Homo sapiens: one gene and its partner. The protein of the gene in region 1 purifies or fractionates together with the protein of each later gene. This does not show direct contact. Each region holds a gene or a part of one and is shown on either strand. Other genes may lie near its edges.

Region 1 (4,378 bases):
TGGTGGCAGGCACCTGTAATCCCAGCTACTCGGGAGGCTGAGGCAGGAGAATTGCTTGAACCTGCTAGGCGGAGGTTGCGGTAGGCCGAGATCGTGCCACTGCACTCCAGCCTGGACCACAGAGTGAGACTCTGTCTCAAAAAAAAAAGAAAAAGAATTTCTTCAGTCATATCTTCATTCAGCACAAATACTTGATGCCTACCAAGTGCTAGACTTCGAGAATACAAAGATCAGTAAGCCACTGTCCTAAATAACTCTGCCTAGATGAGGCACAAATTAATACAGGCGTGTTAAGTGCAATAATGAAGGCAGGAAAAGGGATTACAGGTTTCAAACTGGGAACCAATTATCTTAGGGCAGTTCAGGATGGCTTCAGGATGATGAGATTTATAAACGGGTTCTTTAAAGATACGTTGGGGAAGGCCGGGCTCGGTGGCTCACGCCTGTAATCCCAGCACTTTGGGAGGCCAAGGCGGGCGGATCACGAGGTCAGGAGATCGAGACCATCCTGGCTAACACGGTGAAACCCCGTCTCTACTAAAAATACAAAAAAAAAAAAATTAGCCAGGCGAAGTGGCGGGCACCTGAAGTCCCAGCTTACTCGGGAGGCTGAGGCAGGAGAATGGCGTGAACCCAGGAGGCGGAGCTTGCAGTGAGCCGAGATCCTGCCGCTGCACTCCAGCCTGGGCGACAGAGAGAGACTCCGTCTCAAAAAAAAAAAAAAAAAGCCTGGGGAAAAGGCTAGGGCACGTCAGAGGAAACAGCTGGGCCAAAAGTTTTGGGATGGAGGAACGCATTTAAGTGTGAAGCTAGATCCAGAGGTTGGGGCCATCTCCTGATGGGGCATTATCTAGGCAATCTCGAATACGGATCTTTATGATAGTTTCTGCTCTGCCACCTTTCAAGTTGTAGGTGGCCCCAATAAGGAGAGGAATCGTCCCAGAATAATCCATAAAAGGTCTGGTTACTCTGACAGACGTGCCGTAACCGAACCTCAAACCCCGTCTCCAATTCGGATGTTCAGGAGGACTCACAAAAGGAAATGGCTCGGCTGGGCGCGGTGGCTCAACCCGGTAATCCCAGCATTTAGGGAGGCCGAGGCGGGCGGATCTCCTGAGGTCAGGAGTTCGATACCAGCCTAGCCAACATGGTGAAACCCCGTCTCTACTAAAAATACAAAAATGAGCCGGGCGTGGTGGCGGGCGCCTGTAATCTCAGCTACTTGGGAGGCTGCGGAGCGAGAGTCGCTTGAACCCGGGAGGCGAAGGTTGCAGTGAGCCGAAATCGCGCCATTGCACTCCAGCCTGGGCAACAAGAGCGAAACTCCGTCTTAAAAAAAAAAAGGGATGGTGGGGGAAAACGGCTCGAGTGCCGAAACTGGGACAAGAGAGATGGGGCTTGCCGGCATTCAGGAGCCTTTCTGTCATTCCAAGAGGGGGGAAGTGAGGAAGGAAGACCGTCTCAGAATGTCCTTCCGGGGCGCCTAGAGGGCCCCAGTAAAGAATAAAGCTGGTTGGCACCGGATGTGTTTTCTTCCAGGCTAAGTCCATCTTCCGGCTTGGGCAGACGCTGCCGCGGAATCCTTGACTCTAGTTTTCTGAGTCGGTGAGTGAGTGCAAAGTAGATTCCTCAGGTGGAGGGTGCCTGAGGAAGAGGAGGAGGAGGAGGAGGACAGCTGGGCTCGGCCCCGGAGTGGCTAATCTTGTGCTGCAACCACTGGGCCGACAGGGCCTTGGCCCTTCGCAGGGTTGCCTCCAGAATACCTGTGTGCTGAACCTGGCATCCGGTTTCAGTTCAGCAGATGTTCCCTGAGCTCCTCCTGCTCTGTGTGGGCCCCTGAGCTCGGTGCAGGAACACAGATGCATCAGGCACCATCTCGCGGTGCTCAGAGAGCAGCTGACTCTCTCTGGTTGAAACGGGAGGTGGAGTCATATTAGTTTTACTTGATTTGGGCTTAAAGGAGCCTAATCACTAGCTGAAAAAAGGAACTGGAAACGCGAATGTAAGAAATGTGTATTCGTGTCTTTTTGTCTGGGTAATGATGGAAAAATTTAGTATTGAACGAGGTTCGAGTATGAAAAAGAGAATAGAAGGTGATAAAGCCATAAAGATGGGTTAGAGCCAAATCGTGATGGGTCTCGTATTCTTTCCTAAGAAATCTGGACTGTCCCGGAGGTAGAGAAGAACGATAGAAGATTTAAAGCAGAAAAGGGAAATTAAAAATAAAATAAAATAAGGGTTGTTAATCCTGGTGGCACTCAGGCGGGTAATCTGGCATACAGAAGAGTGTGGTATAAAGAAGACCTGTTGGAAGACATTGCAGTTGTCCAGGTGAACCGGAAGGAGGACCTGTTGTAGTGGTGGGGAGTAGGAAGTTTGGAGATTACGTTAAAGTTGCTAATTGGATATATTATGTTAAATCAACTTTTTGGTGGTCACAGTGCTTATATTGGATATTCAAAATTGATAGATTGTTCTTGACCACAAGGCACACAACATTTAGCAAAAGAAACAAGCTAGAAACTGTTCACTACAATTCATTGTAATGAATGTTGTAACAAAGTTATGAAAAATGTGCTATGAGATCATAGAGAAGTGCATTATAAAGTTCTCGTTTTGAGATGGTGGCATAAAGGTTCATAACACCTACATTAGACTTTGAGTCTTCTTCTTCCTAATTCAGGTTTGGGGTTTTTCGTTTGTTTTCACCATTACAGCATGGGAAAGCATTCCCTATCCTTATTACATCAATGTTTGTGTTTTATTTTGCTTAGATTGTGATCATGGCTGCTGAGTCTGATGTTCTGCATTTCCAGTTTGAACAGCAAGGAGATGTGGTCTTGCAGAAAATGAATCTTTTGAGACAGCAGAATTTATTTTGTGATGTATCAATTTACATTAATGACACTGAGTTCCAGGGGCACAAGGTGATTTTGGCTGCTTGCTCCACTTTTATGAGAGATCAGTTTTTACTCACACAGTCAAAACATGTCAGAATCACCATCTTACAGAGTGCAGAAGTTGGCAGAAAATTGTTACTGTCTTGCTATACTGGAGCACTTGAAGTTAAAAGGAAAGAGCTTTTGAAATACTTGACTGCTGCCAGTTACCTTCAGATGGTTCACATTGTGGAAAAGTGCACAGAAGCTTTGTCAAAGTATCTGGAAATTGATCTTTCTATGAAAAACAACAACCAACACACTGACCTGTGTCAGTCTTCTGATCCTGATGTTAAGAATGAAGATGAAAATTCTGATAAAGACTGTGAGATAATTGAAATTTCAGAAGATAGTCCTGTAAACATAGATTTCCATGTTAAAGAAGAGGAAAGCAATGCTTTGCAGTCTACAGTAGAGAGTCTGACATCAGAGAGAAAGGAAATGAAGTCACCAGAGCTGTCTACAGTAGACATAGGTTTTAAAGACAATGAAATTTGTATCCTTCATGTAGAATCCATCAGTACAGCTGGTGTCGAAAATGGGCAGTTTTCACAGCCTTGTACCTCTTCAAAAGCAAGCATGTATTTCTCTGAAACACAGCATTCATTGATCAATTCTACAGTTGAGAGCAGAGTGGCTGAAGTTCCTGGGAATCAAGATCAGGGCTTATTTTGTGAGAATACTGAAGGAAGTTATGGTACAGTGAGTGAGATTCAGAATCTGGAGGAAGGTTATTCACTGAGGCACCAGTGCCCCAGGTGTCCTCGAGGCTTTCTTCATGTTGAAAACTATCTGCGCCACCTTAAAATGCATAAACTATTCTTATGCTTACAGTGCGGAAAAACATTTACACAGAAGAAAAATCTCAACCGACACATCCGAGGACACATGGGCATACGGCCCTTTCAGTGTACTGTGTGCTTGAAGACATTTACTGCCAAAAGCACACTTCAGGACCACTTGAACATACACAGTGGGGATCGGCCATACAAATGCCACTGTTGTGATATGGATTTCAAGCACAAGTCTGCTCTCAAAAAGCACTTAACCTCTGTCCATGGCAGAAGCAGTGGTGAAAAACTATCTAGGCCTGATCTCAAAAGGCAAAGTCTACTATAATTATAATCACAGACTTGTTATATAAAGTTTGTATTATTCTATTACGCAAGTCTTTCTGTAGAGATGCAGCATTTGTAATATTTCATCCCCCCAATCTTTGTTTCTTATATTTTGTCGGCTTACACATAATCATTCTTTCTGAACTTCTAACAGTTCCAAAGTTATGGGAGGCACAGTAAAGCTGATGGGATTCTGTCTCATCTCATACCTTACATATAAGTCTCAGTAGTATCCCTAGAGAAATAGTGTTCCTCTCTTATATATTCTTGATTCTAGTGACAAAGGATCCAGCAGTATTTGCAGATTCCGATTTGGAGTCT
Region 2 (3,817 bases), on another chromosome or scaffold:
TTCTATGGTTACAAAACAAGGACAGAGAATGCCTGAGTTCCTACTTTGTTCCAGAGACTGTGCGTATTACTTGATTTAATTCTCAATTTCATAGGGTGGATGCTACTGTTCCTAATTCTCTCTAGAGCTTCAGTCAGGCTAACTTGCCCAAAGTCACATCTCAAAAGCAGTAGAGCCAGAAGTGAAACCACATCTGTTCACTTCTAAGGTGCTGGCTCTATACGTTCTATGTCACTCCTTTAAAGGATGAGCAGAGTAAACATTTACAGGAAGAGCCTTAGGAAGACAGAAGAATTTAGCTTATGGTTTCATTGAGGTCACTTTAAAATGTGGGGAAAGTTTGACAAAGAACGTTGGTATGACATGATATGGTAGAAAATGAGTCCTTTATTGTTTTATCATATCAAAATAAGCTCTTTGGATGGTTTCATATCAACTCTTGTTTTGTATTGTTTTGTTTTTTTCAGTCACTAATGACAGATGAAACCATTGCTAATGTGCCTATACTGATTCTTGGGAATAAGATCGACAGACCTGAAGCCATCAGTGAAGAGAGGTTGCGAGAGATGTTTGGTTTATATGGTCAGACAACAGGAAAGGTAAAAAAAAAAAAAAAATTATGATGGGTGTGTTTAATTCTACAGTACAAATGTCTTCTTAAATTACTATTGTCCAACTATACAAGCCCATTATCATTTTCTTAAAGAAAACTGTCATTTATACCTGTGGGTCTTTTTAATGTCCTCATTTCTTTCTACCATGGAATGAAACATTTTCTTGGTGACAACAAAAATGTCAAGGATGAGTTATGCCTAAGGCTTGTGCTTATAGGAAACTAAATTAAAGCTTTCAAAGTTATTTATCATACATTTTCAGAATTAGCCACCAAACGATATATTTGAGTGTTTAAGTATACCAGTAGTGTGTTTAGGCCCTGAGTTTACCAGAGATAAATAAGACATAAACTTGGAATATTTTACGGTTTTCTGAACATATACTTTATAATAAGCTTTAAGACGGATTGTTTTGGTATTCACTTTTCCTAGGATTTATTTTGGGGGAAACATCAGCATTGAAAAAATCCAGATAAACAGTGGAAGAACCCCAGAGATTTACAAAATTTTTTTAGTTTACATATACTATTTCAGGGTGGAGAAATACTGCAGCATATAGCAGGAGGCTCTTTTTTTTTTTTTTTGAGATGGAGTTTTGCTCTTGTTGCCCAGGCTGGAGTACAATGGTGCAATCTCGGCTCATTGCAACCTCTGCCTCCCAGGTTCAAGCGATTCTCCTGCCTCAGCCTCCCTGGTAGCTGGGATTACAGGCGTGTGCCAGCACGCCCAGCTAATTTTGTATTTTTGGTAGAGACGGGGTTTCTCCATGTTGGTCAGTCTGGTCTCGAACTCCTGACCTCAGGTGATCCGCCCGCCTTGGCCTCCCAGAGTGCTGAGATTACAGGCATGAGCCACCACGCCCGGTCCGCAGGAGGCTCTTAAGTCAGACAAAGTAGACTTTGGTCTGTTTTCTGTCTTCTTTTTTATAAATTAGCTTGATATTAATTTTAGGAAATGCTTTGTTTGGTCATAAACCTTCTCAGGGAATGTTTGTCTTTAATATTAGTGAAGCCAGTTTGGATTTTTTTCTAAGTCAGATTATTTTTATTCTTGGGTATCTTGCAAGCTAACCTCTTTCCCACTGAGTGGCCATCCTGCCCTAAGGTAGAGTGAGAGAAGGAGGCTTCTTGTGTGTTCATGGGGCTTGGATGCCAAGCAGCCACGACTTTATCACAGTCATGGATTTATCACAGCCATTCTTTGTTCTAAAATAGAACCTATAATTCTGCTGGGATGTGGGGCTTTATTAATTTTATAAAATTCCAACGAAATGTCTCTCTTCTATTCTAGGGGAGTATATCTCTGAAAGAACTGAATGCCCGACCCTTAGAAGTTTTCATGTGTAGTGTGCTCAAAAGACAAGGTTACGGAGAAGGCTTCCGCTGGATGGCACAGTACATTGATTAACACAAACTCACATTGGTTCCAGGTCTCAACGTTCAGGCTTACTCAGAGATTTGATTGCTCAACATGCATAACTTGAATTCAATAGACTTTTGCTGGTTATAAAACAGATGTTTTTTAGATTATTAATATTAAATCAACTTAATTTGAATGAGAATTGAAAACTGATTCAAGTAAGTTTGAGTATCACAATGTTAGCTTTCTAATTCCATAAAAGTACTTGGTTTTTACAGTTTATAATCTGACATCACCCCAGCGCCATTTGTAAAGAGCAACTTTCCAGCAGTACATTTGAAGCACTTTTTAACAACATGAAACTATAAACCATATTTAAAAGCTCATCATGTTAAATTTTTTATGTACTTTTCTGGAACTAGTTTTTAAATTTTAGATTATATGTCCACCTATCTTAAGTGTACAGTTAATAATTAGCTTATTCAATGATTGCATGATGCCTTACAGTTTTCAATAACTTTTTTTCTTATGCAAACGTCATGCAATAAAACAAACTCTAATGTTTGGCATCCTTGTTGGGCAAATGTTTCATTTAAATGTGTCTTATCTAGCTAGTATACTCTGAAAATTTGAGTATTTAATATTAGGCATATGAAGTGGTTGTTGGGAAAGGAGATTCCTTCAGAATATTTAGAATAGCGTTTAAGGCTCTCAAGGCTTAGGTATTTACCATGAGATGGTTGTGGTCAGTTGCACCTGATACCATGTATCCCTGAATCATGTGTATTTTTATTAGTAATGCAGCCACTACCATTGCTGATGGGGTCTGTGTCCTAGTCCCTGTGGGATTGGCCTTCTGAAGAAAAGCACATTTATGGTACACAAGGTTGATTCTCAGTTTGGTAGGCTCTATAGTTCCATCCCAGCTGTCTAATTCTGAAGTGCTCCAGTCTTATTGGTGCCCAATGGGGTAATCTGTGCCTCTTCCCCAAAAGCAATGACAGGCACCAGTGTCTCCACATTTAGATATATTCCCAGTCTCTGTACATTTAACAGTACTCTCTGGGGCAAGCAATAAGTAGGACCTTGTGTGCAGTTTCATTGTAGAGACATGTATATCTGAGGAATAAAACAGCTTGTTCTGTGTCAGTCTGAGATATGTGGAGATTTTGTTCCTATCCTATAGCTCTTTTGTATTCTTTGGCATATTTTATATCCTGGTAGAAGAAAACAAGTGCTTGTTTCCAATTTTCTTTTTTCTTATTTGCTCTCAGGTAGTTCTTACTCCATACAACAAAGACTTTTTGTTTGTTGGGCTTTTTTTTTTTTTTTTTTTTTGCTCTGTTTCATTTTGTTTTAGAGACGGGGTTTCACCATGTTGTCCAGGCTGGTCTCAAACTCCTGACCTCAAGTGATCTGCCCGCCTTGGCCTCCCAAAGTTCTGGGATTATAGGCGTGAGCTACCATGCCTGACCTGACTTTTGTTTTTAGATATTATGCTTGCCATGTGATAGGGCCTGCAAGCCTCATTGCTAGGCTTACTAAGAAAATTTTAGTTTTTCAAAAGCATTATAATTTCCTAAGAAACTGAATTCTTTTTTTATATGTTTGAGATTCCCATCATTAGTAATATAAGATGAAAGGTAAGTGCCAAAAATGTATTTTTAAAGACCCTCAAGTTTAAGATTTATCCTGATTATAAGCCAAGTTTTATAGTATATTTAACCAATTCCATCAAGAATAATTTTAATATCAAAAATTAGTGTTTTCTGTAGCCATTGTCCATGTCAGAGTTACAGTCCTTTTTGTCATTGATAATATAACCTATGAAGCAGATAAGGATT

What was found.
Region 2: the proteins of ZBTB6 (region 1) and SAR1B purify together in Homo sapiens (affinity purification with mass spectrometry, with the first as the bait; one large-scale study listed by BioGRID). This does not show direct contact.

What each region holds. Positions count from the first base shown.
Region 1 is NC_000009.12:122,910,478-122,914,855, reverse strand, and holds the start of ZBTB6 (zinc finger and BTB domain-containing protein 6), read left to right. Parts: upstream 1-1,532; 5' UTR 1,533-1,605; intron 1,606-2,774; 5' UTR 2,775-2,783; coding exon 2,784-4,058; 3' UTR 4,059-4,378. UniProt on the Homo sapiens protein: May be involved in transcriptional regulation.
Region 2 is NC_000005.10:134,605,154-134,608,970, reverse strand, and holds part of SAR1B (small COPII coat GTPase SAR1B), read left to right. Parts: intron 1-467; coding exon 468-599; intron 600-1,904; coding exon 1,905-2,021; 3' UTR 2,022-3,817. UniProt on the Homo sapiens protein: Small GTPase that cycles between an active GTP-bound and an inactive GDP-bound state and mainly functions in vesicle-mediated endoplasmic reticulum (ER) to Golgi transport.